Regions from separate parts of the Homo sapiens genome. Here region 2 is linked to region 1. The links come from fine-mapping of genetic effects on gene expression. A gene starts in region 1. The other region holds a variant in brackets. All regions are shown on one strand. Distances are from middle to middle. Region 1 holds the start of LINC00472 (long intergenic non-protein coding RNA 472). Region 2 has its middle 75 kb from the start of LINC01626.

What was found.
Region 2: its variant is fine-mapped to the expression of LINC00472 in tibial artery (GTEx, PIP 0.92).

What each region holds. Positions count from the first base shown.
Region 1 is chr6:71,418,767-71,423,167 of GRCh38, forward strand. LINC00472 (long intergenic non-protein coding RNA 472) reads right to left here and starts at 1,979. Exons shown (of 3, transcript NR_121614.1): 1 at 1,300-1,979. LINC01626 (long intergenic non-protein coding RNA 1626) reads left to right here and starts at 2,261. Exons shown (of 8, transcript NR_121615.1): 1 at 2,261-2,335.
Region 2 is chr6:71,493,992-71,498,392 of GRCh38, forward strand. No RefSeq gene overlaps it. Among named protein-coding and RNA genes, the nearest start is that of LINC01626, 75 kb to the left of the region's middle. RefSeq lists an enhancer at 2,044-2,243. The variant T/C (reference allele first, on the strand shown) is at 2,103.

The DNA of each region.
Region 1 (4,401 bases):
CTCATGAAATGGTGAGAAAACTGAAAGACTTTGTCATTTACAGAACAAAATAATTTCTCCTGTATACACTACTGACAAAGTACACATGCATTATTTAAGAGAATTTTGGTTATGAAAAATGTGTGATTTTACTGTTTAGAGAAAAAAATGCAGGTTATCATGATAACCAAAAGTTTACACACCATTGTCTTGCAATACAATCTGTGACGACAATATTTCAATACCATTGCCGGACTAAACCTTTAACATTAATTATTTATCAAAATTATACATGCCACTAACACATCTCAACAAAGAAGATTATGTAAGTGAGCTGCCTTGGCGTCAGTAATACTGAACACAGTAGCTATTTTCAATCCTTCATTAAAATTAGATCAAGATGTACTTGCATTATGTGTTGCTGTTCCTGTAAGGAAGACTTACATTAGTTTTAAGATTTACTTTGGGTATAAGTGACATTTTCCTCTCTTTTTTGACATTTCTTTTTCTTCTTTGTCCCCTCCTCCACTGCCCGCACCCCCCCAACCAAAAAAAGTTTTCAGTATAATACAGAAAACAAAAACACAAACACCTGCCCTGTTCACTCTCTCTTATGCATAATAAATGCTTTGTTCTCCCCCTCAACTGGATCCGGCAGGGATCGCCCGGGGGCACCTGCCACTTCACCCTCAGACTTGGCTCTCTGTCCCCACCCTGGCCCCTAGGATTCCAAATGGTGCAGCAAAATACGACAATCCTAAGGTTCGTAAAATAAGCAATGGATAGTGAAGGAAAGCCTTTAAATGTTAGTGTTTTAAAACATCAGACTTAAAAGTTACTTCTGAGTAGGCTGAAAGGTGAATCCAGGCGCATGTAAACATATCCTGGCCTATCGCTTGATAACTCGCGCACCGTGTTGAGGCCCTAGGAAAATCTCAAAAACGGAGATGTAGTCTAAAAACTGGACGACAGCATAGACCACGTTGCTGTGGCCCCACATATTACCCACGAGAAAAATCTAAGTGGTAAAGTCACTGGTCCAAGGTCAAGCTGAGCCAGTCGCAGGCAGGGCTAGTCCGCGACCTTCTAACCTTTCCATCTCCCACCCAGCCGCGCACAGGCCCTTGGTCGCGCCGGCACCCGAAGAGTTCCCACGGATACGGTTCCCAAGTCAGTGGCATGTCAGTGCCCTTCAAGCTACCGCAATTTTATTTGTTCTCCCCGCCAGCTCCATAAAGTATTAAAGGCTCTCTCCACGACTTCTTCCCAAGCCCAGGTGCCCTAAACCACTTGAGCCCACGGCGCCTAAAGCCGACTCACCCGCAGCCCGAGGTGCGGGAGCCCTCGGACGGACTCCGGCCCGCCCCGCAGTCCCCACCGGCCGCGCTGCGGCCCCGGCTGACGACGAGTCGAGAAAGTCACCCGCGATGACCGCGGACGCGAGGGGCGGGCCGCGTCGCGCCGCCCCGCGGAGGCGCCGCAAACTTTTCCCGGTTCGCAAGTTGCCGGGATCTGCGGCCGCGGACCGACTTCCTTCGCCGGCCACCGGAGGGAGGGGGCGCCCCTACCCCGGGAGGGGGCTGGGCGAGCCGGGAGACGGTCAAGTTGGGGTCGGGGGAGCGCGGGCGCTCCGCACTCTGGGGCACGCGGGGACGAGCCCGGCCGCATTGTCTGCGCGGCCTCGGAACAAGCACGGCCGGCGGTGGCACCGGCGGGCGCGGGGAGGAGTTGCCGTCCCCTTTCGCCGCCGCCGCCCACCGCGTTCTTTGTGTGTCTCTCGCCGCCCTCCAGCCGCTTCGCCGCTCGCCTGACAGCTGATGGGCTCACCGCGCCGGGTCCCGCGTCCTCTCGGCCGCAGCCGGCGGAGCCCGGCCCGGCAGGAGGAGGAGGGGAGAAGAGGAGCGTTGACAGATGCTGTCTTGGAGCGGGCACCGCCGGGGGAAAAGTCTGGACTGCCTCGGCGAGAAGCGGCCGGTAGGCAACCGGCCCCAGCCTCGCATTCGCCTCAAAGACCCCAATTGGCTAGGAGCCCTTCCCTCCGCAGCGGCTCGCGCAGCTCCGCTCTTGCGCCCCGCGCCCGGCTCAGCGGACGGACTAGCGCGCCCGGTCAAGAATCCTGGGGAACCCGCTCCGCCCCCTGGCTCCAGCGCCCTCCAATGATGTCGGCGTACAGAGGGCTGTTCCGCCCAATCAGGTGTCGGAAAGCCCAGCCAGTCCCCGGGAGTGTAGCCAATAGAAGGCGACTCCGGCAACACACCCGCCCTGATCCACTAGGAACAAACCGCTCCGAGCCCGGGTGGTGGGACCGATCCTGGAGCCCAGATCAAGCCAAGTCCGGCCAAAGCTGTGTCGCAAAGTAAGAATCTGAAGACAGGTCCGGTGCTTAAATGACTATTATTCTAAAGAGTTGAAGATGGGAACGGTGGACGCACAAAATCTTTACCCTCGGCTTAAAACGCCTTTTCTGGCAAAAGTTTGTGTATGAAAGAAAGCTGAACAAACACGTTGTAGCACTGTTTAAGTGAAGGCCTTTCCTTTTAGAACACTGCTTTACAATGCCTAATCAGCCGGCGCTCAGGTTGGTGCATTCAGAGACCCGAGCGTTTGTGTTCCTAATAAGTTTGCTAGAATGTCAGGTAACTGAAGCAGGTTAGTTTCTATCCTGCCCCAAAACACAGACTGTCACTGGCACCACCATGTTGTGGTTTTTTCCATGAATGAAAATATAAGAGTTCTGTATGTAAATCATCTTTATTGTGAACTTTATTTCTATAATAAAGTCACACAAACTATCTTTAGTGGAAGTTGGATGAAATACCGGAAAAGAAGAATGTAGAGATAGATGATAGATATGTAGGATATCTCTATCCATCTGCCACCCATCTATCTATCAAGAAAGGACTTGAGTAAAGCACTGGCTATAAACGACTGTACCTTTTGATCACAGGACCTTACAAATAATAGGCACACTAGTTATTTGTTTATTTGATTTGAATAGGATGACTCATTTGTTACTGTTCATATGAAGTTTATAAACTTCATTGAGTTGTTTACTGAAAGTGGACTACACCATGACGAAAACAGTATTTGGCAACACATATTTGCATCTTTTAAAATAAAATTACACTTATTTGTACTTCAAATAGTTACGTCAGTTTATTTCTTCGGGTAATAAACTGTGCATTTAAAAATTTTTGTACACATGTGGCATGTTCCTTCTTTATAAATTATTTTGATGACCAAATACATTTTTTAAAGGGTGATCTGTACAATGAACGGAAAGAAGAGAGAGATCTCAAACAAGAAAAATATGGCTATATTACCTCCTTGCTTTCGTGATTGAAACTCACCATGACTTACCACATTAAGTTCGGGGGATAACATGACCCCTGAAATAAAGTTTTATCAACAGATCCAGGTTCTGGATTGACCTTGAGCCAATCTCTTAATGACTAACTCTGTTACAAGAGAACAATACGCCTGGCTCTACCTGCCTCCTTGGGGTGCTGTAAGATCCCTCCAAGATAGTGTTTGTCAAGCACTTTGCTTTCTGTAAAATACTGTGCCAAGTGCAGAACAGTCTTAAATGTGTTATTATTCTCTGTTTATTATCAGAACATTAATATTTCCTCGACTGCACATTTTTTCAACTGAAGTATATTTTTGAGCCCATCAGTTTTCTCTCAAAATAGATCTGAATGAAACTCCTGCCTGTTCATTCTAGATCAAAGCAGTACTTTCAGGGTTTCTTTCTCTTTTTTAATGAAGAGGATGTTAGAAGAGAAGAATACTGAGGAAAGAATTCTGGATGGAAAACGTTCGAGAAATTTTATTCACTCTTAGTGTATTCCTCTTAGTATATTCCTCAAAAACAAGATGTATCATAATGTCCAGTTTAATACTCTGTTCATAATGTTTAAAAACTTAAGCAAGTTTCAATGTATATGCTTAAAATAAGTTAACGTATCCCATGTCTGCTAATATAGTTTTAGATGGAAGTTGTAAATGGCTGGGTCAAAGTTATACCCATAAATCAATTACTGAATTTTAAATTTTGGGGGCATTTATTGAAGATTCACTTATCACTTTTGTACTTGTCAAAGAGGAAAATAAATGTGTATTTTTAGATTCCATGTGTCATAATATGTTTACTTTTTCCCAGAATATGGAGTCTAGTACAGAAGTTTAATTACTACTTCAAACAAATGTACATATGGTAACACTAGAATGTAAAATTTGCTGAATTTAGTTGAACCAGCAGTTGTAATTTTCAGTTAATTAACTGTATGTATTTCATTTTCTGAGTGAAAATTGTGGAAGAATTTATCAATATGAATATGCATGATTTACTAAGTATAGTTAAGTCAAAACCAGTGTGTGGTAATTTCCTGATAATCGACAAGTCCATACCCATTTATTACA
Region 2 (4,401 bases), 75 kb after region 1:
CTCACTGTTGAGACACATTACTCAGAAAAAAAGATTCCTTTCAAAACATTACTGCTCATTGACAATGCACCTGGTCACCTAAGACCTCTGATGGAGATGTATAAGGAGATTAATGTTATTTTCACGCTGCTAACACAGTGTCCTTTCTGCAGCCCATGGGTCAAGTAGTAATTTTGGCTTTCAAGTCTTATTTTTTAAGAAATGCATTTCATAAGACTATAGCTGCCATAGATAGTGATTTCTTGATGAATCTGGGCAAATTGAAAACCTTCTGGAAAGGATTTGCCATTCTAGATGTCAGAAAGACCATTCATAATTTATGGGAGGAGGTCAAAATATCAACATTAACAGAAGTTTGGAAGAAGTTGATTTCAACCTCTGTGGATGCTTTTGAGGGTTCAAGACTTCAGTGTAGGAAGGAACTGTAGATGTGGTGGAAATAGCAAGAGAACTGATATTATAAGTTCAGCTTGAAGATTGGACTGGATTCCTCCAATCTCATGTTAAAACTTGAATGGATAAGAAGTTGCTTCTTATGGCTGAGCAAAGAAAGTGGTTTCTTGAGATAGAATCTACTCTTGGTGAAGATACTGTGAACAGTGTTGAAATGACAACAAGGAATCTGGAATATTACATAAACTTAGTTGATAAAGCAGTGGCAGGTTTTAAGAGGAGTGACTCCAATTTTGAAAGAAGTTCTCTTGTGGGTAAAATGTTATCAAACAGCATCATACACTACAGAGAAATCTTTTGTGAAAGGGAAATTCAATCAATGTGACAAACTTCATTGTTGCCTTATTTTTAAAAAGTGCTGTAGCCACCCCAACTTTTAGCAACCACCATCCTGATCAGCAGTGGTCGTCGAGGCATGACCCTTTACCAGCAAAAGATTAGGACCCATTCAAAGCTCAGATGATCATTAGAATTTTTTAGCAATAAAGTATTCTAAAATTAAGGTAAGTACATTTTTTAGACATAATGCTATTGCACACTTAATAGATTGCAGTATAGTATAAACATAACTTTTAAATGCACTGGGAAACAAAAAAAATAGTATGGCTCCTTTTATCGTGATGTCTATTTTATTGCAGTGGTCTAGAACTGAACCCACAATAACTTCAAGTTGTGCCTTGTAACTATTATTGTTTTCAGGCTCACTTCCATGATGTCAGGGGCATCAGATACATGCTCTTATTTTTTTCTAAAGTCAGATCCAATACTACAGCCAATAATTCTGTATGAGATGTATTAATAGAAAGGAAAAATCTATAGTTTTCTCTAATTGCATTCGTCTTCTCAGAGAACTGGGCACAGCTATGGGGGGTAAAAAATGCCTAACAGACAATCTCGCATCTTGAAAATATTTTGTTTTAGAAGGATAGTTTGATTTTTTTCCTCAATGTAATAAGTTGGCTGCAAAGAATGGGGAAGGAAGGTGGGGGAAGCATAAATTTCTGATTTTAATTTTTTTTTGTTGTTTATTTTTAGAGCTTCTCTCTTACAGAAAAAAAGTGTTTGCTTTTTTGGATTCTGAAGTAAAAATAACAGAACGAAGCCTTAGTGAATTCTTATACCGTGCCAGGCTCTGAACGCTTTATGCTCAAACAGCCCTCTGAAATAGGAAAGCTTTTATCCTTCATAGTTTTATAAATATGAAATTTGATGCACAGATTGCCTATGGAACTTACCCAAGGTCATCTGGCCTGTGTGTCAGTAGCCCAACTATGAATCCAGGTAGGTTTACTTCAGAGCCCAGCTCTTAATTCCAGTACTGTACCACTGTTATATAACAGAAAGATTTTCTGAGTTACAGATGCAATTTTAAATATTCTTGTAGTCACACTTAAAAAAGGAAAAAAGAAATGGGTGCAATTAATTTTAATAATATATTTTTATAGAACCAACTATGTCTAAAGTATGACCATTTCAATATGTAATCAATATAAACATTTTAATGAGATATTTTGTATTTTTTCATACTTCACTTTTAAATCCAATGTGTACTAAATGCTTCTGCAGATCTCAATCTGGACTTGCCACATTTAAATGCTTCATAGCCACACAGGGCTGGTGGCTGCCCCACAGAAAGCACAGCTTCACCA[T/C]CTGTGCAGCTAAAGTCACTTGACATTCTATTTATATCTTCTATGTTTACATAATCTTTATTCTTTTTGTTTTGGTATCTTCAAGAATGTAGAGACCAGAGCACTAAAACTGAAAGTAACTTTGGGGGCCGGCGGGGAAGGAAGAAAACCCGTAGTAATATTGTTATTGTCTAGGGGTTTCTAATAATGCCTACAGAAACTGATGCTCTTAAGAGCATTTTCTCAGATTTCTGAAATCTTTTGAGTTCCATTGCATGCCCATTTAAGAACATGAGGCTCATTTACCATATTTCCCCCTTGGCCAAGCAGAAATCTAAAAATAAACTCTTAGTTCTTAGGTTTGACCTAACTCTTTATATAAATATCCGTTTGCAGTTGTTATTTTAGAAAAAAATTCAATCCCCTAAGTCTTTTGGTTAAAACTTTAGGAAACTGATTTCTCTCCTGAACACTTCCTTCCTCTAAACCACATAGAGTTTGGGATGTGGGGGAAGGAAGCAACAGTCACATTTTATTTTGTTTTTTGTGTTTCCCACAAGAGAACAAAAGAGACAACCCCCACTCCACAAAATTTTTCTGCCATTTCCCTTTTCACCACCAAATTTTAAATGATGATTCGTGTGTGAAAAATTGGTCCCTTGATATAAAATTGAACTGTAAACTTTGTAGAGCTTTGGTCTGAAAAAGAATATCTTATCAAGTTTGGAAGTGCCCTATGGAAAACTGCCATGTCACATTTTCCCCTTTCTGTATCTCTGCCAATGTTTCCCCAACACCCGATGCACAGCAGACAGCAATAGAGAGTGCTTGTTGAAGTAAATTTCTTTTAATTAATTGGGGGAAATTCGATACAAATTTTGGATTCACTATTTTAAAAGAAAAGTGGTTTGTTATTTCCAAGTATATTGATGGAAACAGGAGAAATATTTGCATGAGAAAGGAATGATTTGTGAGGAAGAAATGACCTAAAGATGAGTTGGAAACTACTGGAACTTACAAGGCTCATCAGCTTCTAGGGGGTTCCTCCTTGACCCTATCTTTAAATGAAATTTTAATATAAACAAAATGTAAAAATTAAAAATAAAACAAAATATTTAAAAATACGTGTACAATTTTGGTCAAGAGAGATGTTAAGGTAGGTAGGAAACTTAGCAAGAAAACATGGTTATATTTAACTGGATTAGAATGAAGGAATATATATATATGTGTGTGTACATATATACATATATAGTCATGCATTACTTAACAATGGGGATACATTTTGAGAAATAAATCATGAGGTGATTCCACCACTGTGCAAACATCATAGAGTGCTTACACAAACTTAGATGGTATAGCCTACTACATGCCTATATGGCATAGCCTATTGCTTCTAGGCTATAAACCTTTGCAGCTTGTGTCTTTACTGAATACTGTGTGCAATTGTAACACAGTGGTAAGTTTTTAATATGTAAACATATCTGAATATAGAAAAGGTAGTGCAAAAATACAGTATTATAATCTTATAGGACCAATAATCTTACAGGAACACCGTCGTAAAAGAGGCCCATCATTAACTGAAATGTCATTATGCAGTGCATGACTGTGTGTGTGTATTTGTGTGTATTTGAAGACATATCTTATACAAAACAATGGATTGGGAAAAATATATGCAGTCAGAATGCCATCAGAAGACATGTAAGTGATATTCCTAATGTACAAATGACTACTAAAAGAAGTTGTAAATAAAGAAAAGAAAATGGGCCACAAACATTGTATTTTCACTAGTGAATCAAGGAAATGAAAAATATAAGAAAATTAGATGGAATATTTCACACACCAGATAAGCAAAAATTTAAAGAAGAAAACACTGTCCAACATTAGTGAAGTAGGCCCTCTACTTAGCTGCTGGGAGTGTGACTTGCTCAAACCTTTTTAGAAATTAAACTGGAAATGGCTATTACAATTTAAAACATCATACACTTTTATTTAGCAATCCCAATTGAGGAATTACCAGTACATAAACACATGTCTATTAAAGGGTTTATTACTTATAAAGTAAAAGCTCTGTAATAAACAGGTGATTTTTCAGGTGGCAAAAACCTGAAAACAAGTTGAATGTTCATTACAGAGGGAATAGTTGAATAAATTATGATATGGTAATAATATGGGACATTATAGATCTATTAAAAATAATGATGGCCGGGCACGGTGGTTCACGCCTGTAATCTCAGCACTTTGGGAGGCCAAGGCAGGCGGATCACAAGGTCAGGAGTTCGAGATCAGACTGGTCAACATGGTGAAATCCCATCTCTACTAA